Regions from separate parts of the Homo sapiens genome. Here region 2 is linked to region 1. The links come from fine-mapping of genetic effects on gene expression. A gene starts in region 1. The other region holds a variant in brackets. All regions are shown on one strand. Distances are between the middles of the regions.

Region 1 (5,307 bases):
CCTGAGTAGGAAGAATCACAGCTGACTCGGATATCATCTTCAGCTTCCATTTCTGAAAACATAATCTGCCTTTTTTTCTCTGACTCACTTCAGAGACCCCACGTGAGGAGCAGCCTTGCTCAGGAAGAAAGCGTGGGTCAGGGCAATGACTTCATTTATTTACAACAAGTGAAGGGCTTGGGACTGCAATGGTGGCAGGCGAGGACTTGCTCAATGGATGTGCTGCTCCCGTAACATGTCTGAAAGGCACCAGTGTCCCTAACATCATAAAATAAAAGCACAGATGGTAACTTACCCAAAGTGACTGGATAAGTTCATGGAAATACAAAAGAGAAGGAGGTTTTTGATCATGATAAAACCAGAGAACATTCCATTGTCCATTCCCAATAAGAATAGTAGTTGAAGCAGGTGAATATGGAGGAATAACTCTTCCCTTCTCCAGCTTGTTCTTGAAGCTGAAAAGCACACAAAGCGGGGAAGCACGTGAACATCAATGCTGTTGTGTCACAGTTCCTGGAATCAAATCACACTGCTATCACAACAATTTGCAAAGAAAGGAGCCCGCTGTCCTTCCCCAGGACAGCTGCACACCAGGTATTTTCCATCACCCTCACTGGGCAGTAAGTTGGAGCATAAAAATAAGTAACAAGAGGCTTATTTTTACTTCTACTCAGGGTGCAGAATCACCCTAATTCGTTGTTTTCCACTCAAATACTCTGTTTTGTTTTTTAGCATGTTATCAAATAAACCATTAGTCCAATTATTAAAATAAACGCTGTAGTTATCTGAGCGACTGTATTTTGTATCCGTCAAATCCACAAGTGTAGTAATTTTACCTTTCTGAAATATCTGCCACGCCACGCGTTCAAAGCCAGCAAGCTACTCCTCTCTCTGCAAGGCACTGAGAAAGTACGTGGAAAGAAGTGGGGAAAAGCACATTTAAGAAACAGGTTTTCTGCAGGATCACAATACTGTGACAACTGCCTATAAAAGAGTGTGGCTACTTTCCCGGCATTCGGTCCCCGTGACTACATAACTTAAGCACTGCATCTGTGGAAGTCTCTCCACTCAATGCTGGACCCTAATTAATGTATTTGAGATCCAGGCAGACATTGTCCCTGGGCTCAACGACTAACCTTCCTGAAAACACGCATTTCTCAGTATGCGCATAACGCAAATAGGTGCTCACAGGCATCCGAACAGTATGCTTCGAAAAGAAGCATTTTCCCAAGAAGCCCCCCCAACCCCCATCCCCCGCAAACTCCGGAATTGGGAGACACAACAGGTACTTCCACCTCGGAAGCGAAGGCCTTCTGCGACTCCTGCCAAGAAGGGCAGGGTGCCATGCGGTGGTCGCCTGGGCGCGTCCGGGGGGCTCGTCGCGGGGCCCGGGCCAGAGCCAGGCGGCGAGCACGCGGCGCTGCATGCGGGAAACCCGGGCGGCGCCTCCCGCCGCCCCTCAGCCCCGAGCCAGGGACCCCCAGGAGAGGCTGCGCTCCCACGACCCTCCGGACCCCCACAGAGGCTCACCAGGGCCGGCGCGCCAGGGCAGGTGGGCGCGGGGGCTGCACTGCGGAGCCGCAGCCTGGGTCGCCCTGGCACCCGCGGTCGCCACCCGCGCGGTCCGCAGCGGCACGCCGAGGGTCTCCAGCTCCCCGGCCCTCCCCGGCTCGCTCCCGGCTTTCGCAGACTTCCCCTGCTCCTGCCCCGGGTACGAGCCAAGCGCTCCGCCAGGCAGCGCCTTCCTCCTGGGCTGGGAGCGCGCGGTGCAGCAGCGACTCCAAGTCCCCTGGCCTCGAGCAGCCCGCGCGACACGCGCGCGACACCCCCGCGGGGTCCGAGTCCACCCCGCGAGCAGCGCCGGGACGCCGCGCGCCTCAGAGCCCCGGGGCTGACGCTGGCTTTCCAGGTGGGCGATCTCACCCCTCCGGCTCCCGTGATGGTGGCAACGGGTGTCCCCCACCCCCAACCGGTCACCGCGCCCTGGTGCCCCGTCCGGCAGGGATGAGCCGCCCGGACCCCGCTCTCTCCCGCGCCCGGCTTCAGCCCCGCAGTCGCCAGGGTAAAGTTTGCGCTCTGGCCTGGCTGCGCGCCCCGCCTGCTCTGCACCTCTCCTCCCCGGCCACGCAGCCTGCCGCTCAGGCGCCCCGAGGAGAAGGGTGCGGACCGAGCCGGGGCGGCCGGTCCTCTTCCCCGCTCGCGTCCTCTTACCCCACTGCCCCGGCCCAGCGCGCCCAGGGCTCACCCTGCGCGCCGGCCCCGGGAGGCGAGCCGTCGGTGAGGATGCATCCTCCTTCTCCTCCGCCTGCTCTCGCCCGGCTGGCAGGCGCGGAAGGCCGGTGCGGCGTCACCGCCCCATGCTGCCAGCGCGAACTTCCCCGGCACTCCCGGCGGAGCGGCTCTTGCGCCCCGCGCTCCCGCCGCCGCCCTGCAGCTCCGCTCCGCGCCGCGCCCCGGGCCGCGCGCCGCCCGCCGCAGAGCCCCCCAGCGCCCCCGGCGCACTCGCGCCCGCTCTCACCTCGCCCGAGCGCCACATGTCGTCTCTGGGCTGGAGGATCGGCCCTCTGCAGAGGTGCTCCGGTAGAGGCCGCCAGACGCTCAGCAAATGCGCCCTTGGCCGAGCTGGGCGGAGGGGGAGGGCGCAGGGCCCCCGGCTCGGCCTGCAAGGGGAGAGGCCCTGTTCTGCTGAAGTTTCTCCAGGGCCCTCAACAGCATCTTCGGCGCCTCGTGTAGTCACCACCGCCCGCTTGTAGAGCAGGGATGGGAGGGCAGTGTCAGCAGTCGGGTGATAGAGGCCTGGACTCCGACAGCTTTGCTCCCTAGAGCCGGCCCCAACGCCTCCCTGCCCAGGCCTGGGTCCTTCCCGGGTGCTCCATGGCACCCCTTACATGCGCATCTCTTAGGCGCTTCTGAAAGAAGCTGGCCTGTGGACATTCTTTTCATCTCACTCATAGACAGGAATGCATAACTACGGGAGGGAAAGCCAGGGTCACATTGGACTCGATTAGAATGAAATCCTTACCTAACGCAGTGTATATCTGGGGGTTTTCTGAAGTTCCATTTCTTGACAACAAGCCGCAGTGGCAAACGGGAAAGGGCCAGGAGCCCTGGGGGCTGCAGGTCGGAGAGCGCCTCTGGGGTGACGGGGCGGGATCTCCCCAGCAGGGCTTCCGAGCCACGTCGGGTCACTGCCTCATTAGCCACGTACATGGGGTCTTACTATGGTCATTACGTCGGTGTGTCGTCCGTCCTAGTGGTGCAGTTCCTGGGAGGTGAGGGTGGCATTAATGACAACTGCGCGGCAGCAGGGCCCCTTCAAACAACACAAGTAAGAGCGCATCGTCTTGGGTTTGCCAGGTCTTGCTTCCTCAGGAGGTGGGGGACTCTCGACTATAACACCCAGTGGAAAACGTTCAAGACTCAAAGGAAAGCCACTGAAAACGTGATGGGGAGGTTTACTTACACCATTGTCCCATTCCTTTTGTGAAACTGCATTATTCATAATCTCTTTTAACAGAATAATGGTAAGTAAAGGCAAATTCCTAACTCCCCTCCAGGAAAGATCTTTGACCTTCCAGTGTAGGAAGCCTCTCATTTTTCCAGTTATCTCTAATACAGTGTATTCCAAATCTAAGTTACCTGTTAATACTTCTGCACATTCCAGAAATTCTGAAATTTTCTGAAAAACAAAACTTGTAAATCTATTCCAGGAATAGGACATAAATATACATAAATGTGCAAATATACAGGAAGTGTTTCTCTGAATATACATTTAGCCACACTATTAAATAACTGTTTCCAGTGGTTCTTCAGGAAATATGAATGAAATAAGATGCTAATTTGAATTTTCTAATTCTAAAATGGATCACTGAACGTATGCATTTCTTCATTTTCTAATTTCCCAAAAGATGTACCACTAGGGTGAAATTCCTTGGGAGACATTAAATTTTAAAAAGTTAACAACATGGTTTTATGATCAGCCTAATATAATTTTCACCTATTAGGTGTTGGAATTCTAACACCTAATACCAGCGACAGCTGCTCTTCTCTCAGGATTAAACAGCATAATGCAAATCAAAGAGTTGGAAGAATTGGTAAATTTTAAACTTCACAGCTTGTCACACAAAGTCATTCGGTGTGAGTTTGCAAAAATAAATGTATATAAACAAGGGATGATTTTTGTATTAGCGAGGGTTATAGACATTAATTCTTAATAATAAAAGAAATGTCAGCTGTAAGGAAATATGTTCTTTTGATGGATTATGTTTAAAACTTCCACTTTTTTTGGTACACTTTCTATCAGCTTTATGTCCACACAACACATATTATTGAATATATAAAAATCATTTTAAGTTAGAGTCATTCTTTAACATTGTATTTCAGCATGTTGCTTAAATTCTTTTCTCTTCCCTGTAATGAAACGGTATGCCACTCTCTCTCCTCCTAGTGTTTATGTAACATAACATAGCCTCACTTTAGATGGACTGCCCTGAGGGGACAGTGAAATCGTAAGGCCCATCAGAACCTTACAGAAACTCACATTGCTAGAAGAGTGCTTACTACCATTTCAATGATTTTTGTTTTACTATAGAATTCTGTATTTGTGCTGAGAAATAATAGGCTATCCGTTGAATTCCCATTTGTTTCATTAGCATTTTCTCTTCATTGAATGAAATTAAGCAATGTCGTGATCGTTGTGGAAGACAGTAGAGGGCACCCTAGTTCCACACAACCTCAGCCTTGGCCCGGGCTTCATAAGAATTTCATTTCCAGTGTCAGAGCCTAAAATAGCTGAAGGTGGGGAAGCTGGGCCATGAGTAGAACACGTGTTCACAGAGCACCCACCCTGTACCCCGGTCAGGGGCAGGAACTGAGACAGTGGCTGTGTTTGCGTGGTTGGGTGTGGTAAATGTGGCTGAGACATGAACACAGTGCCATGGTATAAGTGAGATCATGTGCTATTTGTCTTTCTGTGCTTGGCTTATTTCACCAAGCATGTTCTCCAGGTTCATCCATGTGGTCAAAAATGGCAGGATTTCCTTCTTTGTTAGGGCTAAATAATATACTGTCGTATATGTATGTTATACATATACGTGTGTGTGTGTGTGTGTGTGCGTGTGTGTGTGTACGTATCTCACAGTTTCTTTATTCATTTATCCATTGGCAGATGCTTAGGTTGTTCCATTATTTGGCTATTGTAAAAAATGCCAAAATGAACATGACAGTTCAGATCTCTCTTTCAGATACTGATTTTATTTCCTTTGACTATATCCCCAGAAAGGGGGTTACTGGGTATATAGTGGTTGC
Region 2 (5,383 bases), 86 kb before region 1:
TTGTGGCTGCTCTGGGGATTAAATATGCATCCTACCTTAAAACAATTTAGTGCTGATTATTACTAACTTAATTTCAAAAGTATATAGAAATTTCCTTCCAACATCATGACTTGTCCTTCTCCAAGGTGATAGTATTGTTATACAAATTATGCTTATAAACTCAACAATATAGCTTCATAATTATTGTTTCATACAATTGTCTTTTAAATTGGTTGAAAGAAGAAAAGAGTAAAAACTTTATTTACATTTTATATTTACCCATGTAATTTCCTTTATGGTGATCTTCCTTTCCTTGTGTGAGTTCAAGTTAACATTGATTTATCATTCCTATATACCTTAAAAGACTTCCTTTGGTATTTCTTGTAGAGTAGGGCTGCTATAAATGTATTGTCTCCATTTTTATTTACCTGGGCATGTCTTTATTTCACTTGCCGTTTTGAAGGGTAATTTTGCTCAATATAGAAGTTTTGGTTGATGGTGGGGGGTTCCCTGCTTTGTTTCAGCACTTTGAATATGTTGTCTCACTGCCTTCTGGCCTCCATGGTTTTTTATGAGAAGTCAGCTGTCATTCTTATTGAGGATCCTTGTATATGATGAGTCTCTTCTCTCTTGCTTTCAAGATTCTCCCTCTGTCTTTGGCTTTCAACAGAACAATTACGTTGTGTCCAGGTGTGTATCTCTTTAAGCTTACTATATTAAGACTTAGTTGAGCCTCTTAGAAGTGTAAATTAATGCTTTTAATAAATTATGGGAAGTTCAACCATTATTTCTTATTATTATATATTATATTCTTTCTTCTTATTATTATTAAATAGCTGATTTAAAGTCTATTTACTAAATCCAACTTCTGGGCACCTTGAGGGCCAGTATCTTTTGATGGTTTTGTTTCTTGTATACAGGCTGCACATCGCAATTTCTTTGCATGCCTCCTAATATAATAAACTGGAAACACTAGCCATATATTTTAATACCATTGAAATCTAATCATCCCTTTCTCCCACTATTTATTGTTGTTGTATTTTGTTGTTGTTGGGGTTAGGCTTTGTTTGTTTACTTTCCTGGACCAGTATGCTAGTGTTTGCATTCCCTATACTGAAGTCTCTGTCTGTTTTCATTTTTAGTCCTGGCTTTATAGGGGTCACCCATATGTCAGCATAGCTTAGGGCAGCCAATGATCGGTCTTTAATTTTCTTGAATGCTTTATGGTAATACATTTTTCACCCTTTGCTGTGAGGATCTGTGTGTAGTTTGGAGCATGCTTTCAAAGTTTAGGCAGATTAAGTCTTCCTTGTCTTTCACTTTTTGCTTTCACAGGACATCAAGGTCAGCCAGGGATGAGTAAGTAACTAAGACTCTCTCTGCTCTTTCTTGACTGTTCACACGACCCTGCACATACACACAGGCTTTCAGATCCTCAGGAATATGTCTGAGATTTTTATAGTCCACTGTGAACTAGATCTGATTCCCCAGATCTTCCTTTTACATGTTTGGCTGGTGTCTTTCTTGCCTTAGCTGGCATCACTGTCTTGAAGGCTTCAGAGTTCACCTTCCTCAAGTGATGCTGATCATCATTATCATCAACAATGCTTTGGGAATAAAACTTTCCCATGGAGCTCCAAGTCGGGTCAAATAGTGGCAAAACTCTGGGGATGGGGCATTTTGTAGAGTTCCAAATTAAATCATCCCCCTCTGGTGGCAACAAGGCTTCTGGTCTTCATGGTACCATGCCAAGGAGCTGAGAGGGATATAGGCAAATCTCTAAGTTAAAATGGCATAGACCTCACTGTTCTTATTGAAGTTCAGTACTGTTTCTTCAGTAAACACTTTTAATTTGTTGTATGCCTTTGATTTTATTTCCGGAGTTCTGAAATGTCTGCTTTTATATAATCTTGCCAGCGTTTTCATTGCTTTTTGTGGAGAGAGGATTTACGGAGGACCTCAATCCACCACTATGCAAGTCTCACGTCTGGAAGATAAATTTACGTGGTCACCCGACCTAAAGGAGCAGCCTGTCACTCAAGCCCAGACAATTGTCACCTTGTGGGATCATGTTCCTAATGTTGTTAGGTCAACTATGGATAGGTTTACACAAATCTTTGAAATTCTTATTTTATAAATTCTTAAGAAAGGATTTCCTTTGGGTGGAATATTACCACCAATTTGCAATCCCTACCTGAAGGAGTTTCATCAAATCCAGTCCACCCACTTATCAGGATTCATTTCTTCAGTCAGTTCACATTCATCTAGCTCCTGCTACAGGCCTGGAATAATACTGGCTGGTAGGGAGACAATGATAGCATCATGAAGAATGTAGAATAAATTGGATTTAAATGAGCATATTGGATCAATTAGAGCTCACTTCA[A/T]ATTTTTCCTTCTGAGGTCTTACATTGCAAAATAGAGTGCCTGATCCTTGGTTTATCTGATTTTCAATCTGAACTCAGAAAAGTTAAGTAAACATTTCTTCAGACTTTTTTTTTCCTTAAATATCTCTTCAGACTTTTATATTAGGGAAATTGTGAAGAGTAAATATTTTTCAAATTACAAGTTTCCATAAAGAACCCACACTCATTTCAAAACAGGCTACAGAGCATTTGAATTTAGAGTAGAGATAGTCTATTGAAAATGACAGTGAAAAACAGATAATCATGTAAATCTTTGATGAAATGAACCTTTTTGCAGACTTCAAAATCATTACCTTATATCACTGCAAACCTGGCAAGTAATATCAGTGATCAGAGTAATTCATATTCAAATGCTCAACGTGTTTGCTCAGGGCACTGATTGTCCCAGATGTGCTAGTATATGGTAAAAAGACATTAAGACTAATTTTTAAATATTTAAAATACTGTTTTCACTGAGTAAACTGTGGAATTTCCAATTTTCCAAAGAAAAGGTTCTTTTTGATTTGAAGTTAGTTCTTACAATGAAGGATGATGTTGATTGAAGACTCAGTGTCACAGTGAGTTATGCTTTCTCTCGAGGCAGATCCCTCCCAAGGCAGTCACATCATCATTCAGGTGGGAGCTCTGGGAGGAACAATCACATCAAGATCCTTGGCTCTAGTCAATCAGTGCTCCTCTCTCTCTCTCTCTTTCTCTCTCTCTCTCTCCTTGAATGGTAGTTGGGGGGAGTGCTACCCTAACACAGGTCCATTCCATCAGGAGAGGTTTTGAAGATCACAGAAGCACACCCTTCTTTATATAAGAAGGGGCAAACTTAAAGATGATGTTTTCAGTGCAAAAAAGTGCAAAAAAAAAAAGTTTCTCTAGGGCATTGTTTATAGATAATCACTCAATCAGGGCTTGAAGCAAGATTTTCCATTTTAGGTTACATTTTTGTTCTAAATCAACTTCCATCTGGAAGCAATCGCATGGTATTGTGAGCCCTGGGTTAGAAATTATGAGGACTAAGATCTAGGCCTGCATGTCCTCCTAACTTTTGATACGATTCTGAGCCAATGGATTAACCTCTTTGGGCTGCAGTATCCCTGTTTATAAAATAGAGGTTACTCATTTAGTGTACCTGCTTCTCATAATTTGTCCTGTAAACTAAGAGTGTCTGACTGAGACAGGTCTTCATCAATTTAGGAAGTTTATTTTGCCAAGTTTATGGATGTACGCATGACACAGCCTCAGGAGGTTCTGACAACATGTGCCCAAGGTGGTTGGGGCACAGCTTGGTTTTATACATGTTTGGGAAACAGGAGACATCAATCAATATATGTAAGATGTACACTGGTTTGGTCCAGAAAGGTGGGACAACTCGAAGCGGGGACAGCGCTTCCAGGTCATAGGTAGACAGCCTGGTTTAGTGAACCAGTAAAGCAAAGAAAGCAATCAGATATGCATTTGTCTCACGTGAGCAGAGGGATGATTTTGGGTTTTGCCTGTCCTTTGTCCACAAGGAACTTCTTTGTGGGCAAATTGTGAGGGAGGTATGTAGCTTCTTATCTTTGTAGCTATCTTATTTAGGAATAAAATGGGAGGCAGCTTTGCCTGAGATAGTTCCCAGTTTCACTTTTCCCTTGCTTTAGTGATTTTGGGGTCTTGAGACTTATTTTCTTTTCACAGTCCCATGAGAGACATAAAGCATTATTTCTAAGACATGAGAATGACAAGTAGGTCAGAAGATTTACAACCTCCTTGTTAATCTTCAACAGAGGATGTTTGCTGTGCTATTTTAAGTTTGATAGTTACTCCAGGGGCATTTGAACCCAATTTTTTGTATACAGACACATACTTTGAGGACAACATTAGTCAAGGCTTTTCCTGGATAGGTCTTTAGATTCCAGAGAAAGTACAGAAGTAATACTGATTAAAAACACATTAGAATATTCTCTCTATTTGTGGTGATGTCAAAAGATATATGTGTAAATATCCTTGCTCTAAAAGTATGGTACTGTAATTTATAATTATTTTCAGAACTTTTTATTTCTTGCCTTGTTATCATTATCCCCAAGGTGATTCTTATTATGTTCTCATTAAAAATAACAAATGCTGAAATATCTACAATACAAAATCAGAAAGTAGAAAGCTAATGTGACCTTTTTCACTAAATATTCATCAGAATTAAGGTTCAGCAGCTTGTAAATGTGGTAGGCGTATCTTCAAACTGGAGCTCATTGGAGGTTTTCTGTAATGAAGGCTAGAACTTGTCAAGAAAGTTACTGACACCTGATATGGAAAACATCGTTTTCTACTGTGGCAGGGATTTGAGTTACACACAATGTACGTATCTGTCCACACTCAGCAAAGGTGCCGTTAATACTTGTGTATTTCACACTAAAAATTTTGCTTCAAATGAATAAAGCAGTAAGCTAGTATTGGACTCTAGTTATAATGACATGCATGCTGACATATGGAGTGGGAAATGCATTGCCATCTGAAATTTATTTTGAAATGTAGCAAAAAAAAAGAGATAGATTGAGGATGGGTGTATTGATGGACAGATAGAGGGAGAGATGACAGGTGGTGAGGACACCTGTTGCTTACTCTTCTATCGATGGATTGAGATGTTTAAAGAGGGTGTTTATGCATGTAACCATTTGGACATAATTTACAGTATATTTTTCTCCAAACCACAGCACAAAGCTAAACTCTACAGACTATAGGAGAGGAATGTAACTATATAGTATACGAAAACAGGATCTTCTACTGAGCCTTAGGTTTGTTTTTTGTTTTTGTTTTTTTTTTTTTGGCTGGGATTTTTGCTGTGGTATAAGAGAAAACACTCTCATTATACAAATATCATCATTATTTATAATAGGGAAATGCTTCTTCATGTGCGCACTGAAGAGTATCTTTTCTGCTGGTCTTTACCCTTCCATTTGTGAGATCCTAAAACCAGTTAATGAAGGGGCAACGCAGGAGTTCAGGACTAGCCT

What was found. PIP is the estimated chance that this variant, and not a neighbour inherited with it, causes the effect.
Region 2: its variant is the best candidate, but not a certain one, in a credible set for the expression of GABRA5 in testis (GTEx, PIP 0.62).

Annotation. Positions count from the first base shown.
Region 1 is chr15:26,864,323-26,869,629 of GRCh38, reverse strand. GABRA5 (gamma-aminobutyric acid type A receptor subunit alpha5) reads right to left here and starts at 2,568. Exons shown (of 11, transcript NM_000810.4): 1 at 2,519-2,568; 2 at 837-901; 3 at 296-455. The coding sequence starts at 381.
Region 2 is chr15:26,949,789-26,955,171 of GRCh38, reverse strand. No RefSeq gene overlaps it. Among named protein-coding and RNA genes, the nearest start is that of GABRG3, 19 kb to the left of the region's middle. The variant A/T (reference allele first, on the strand shown) is at 2,364.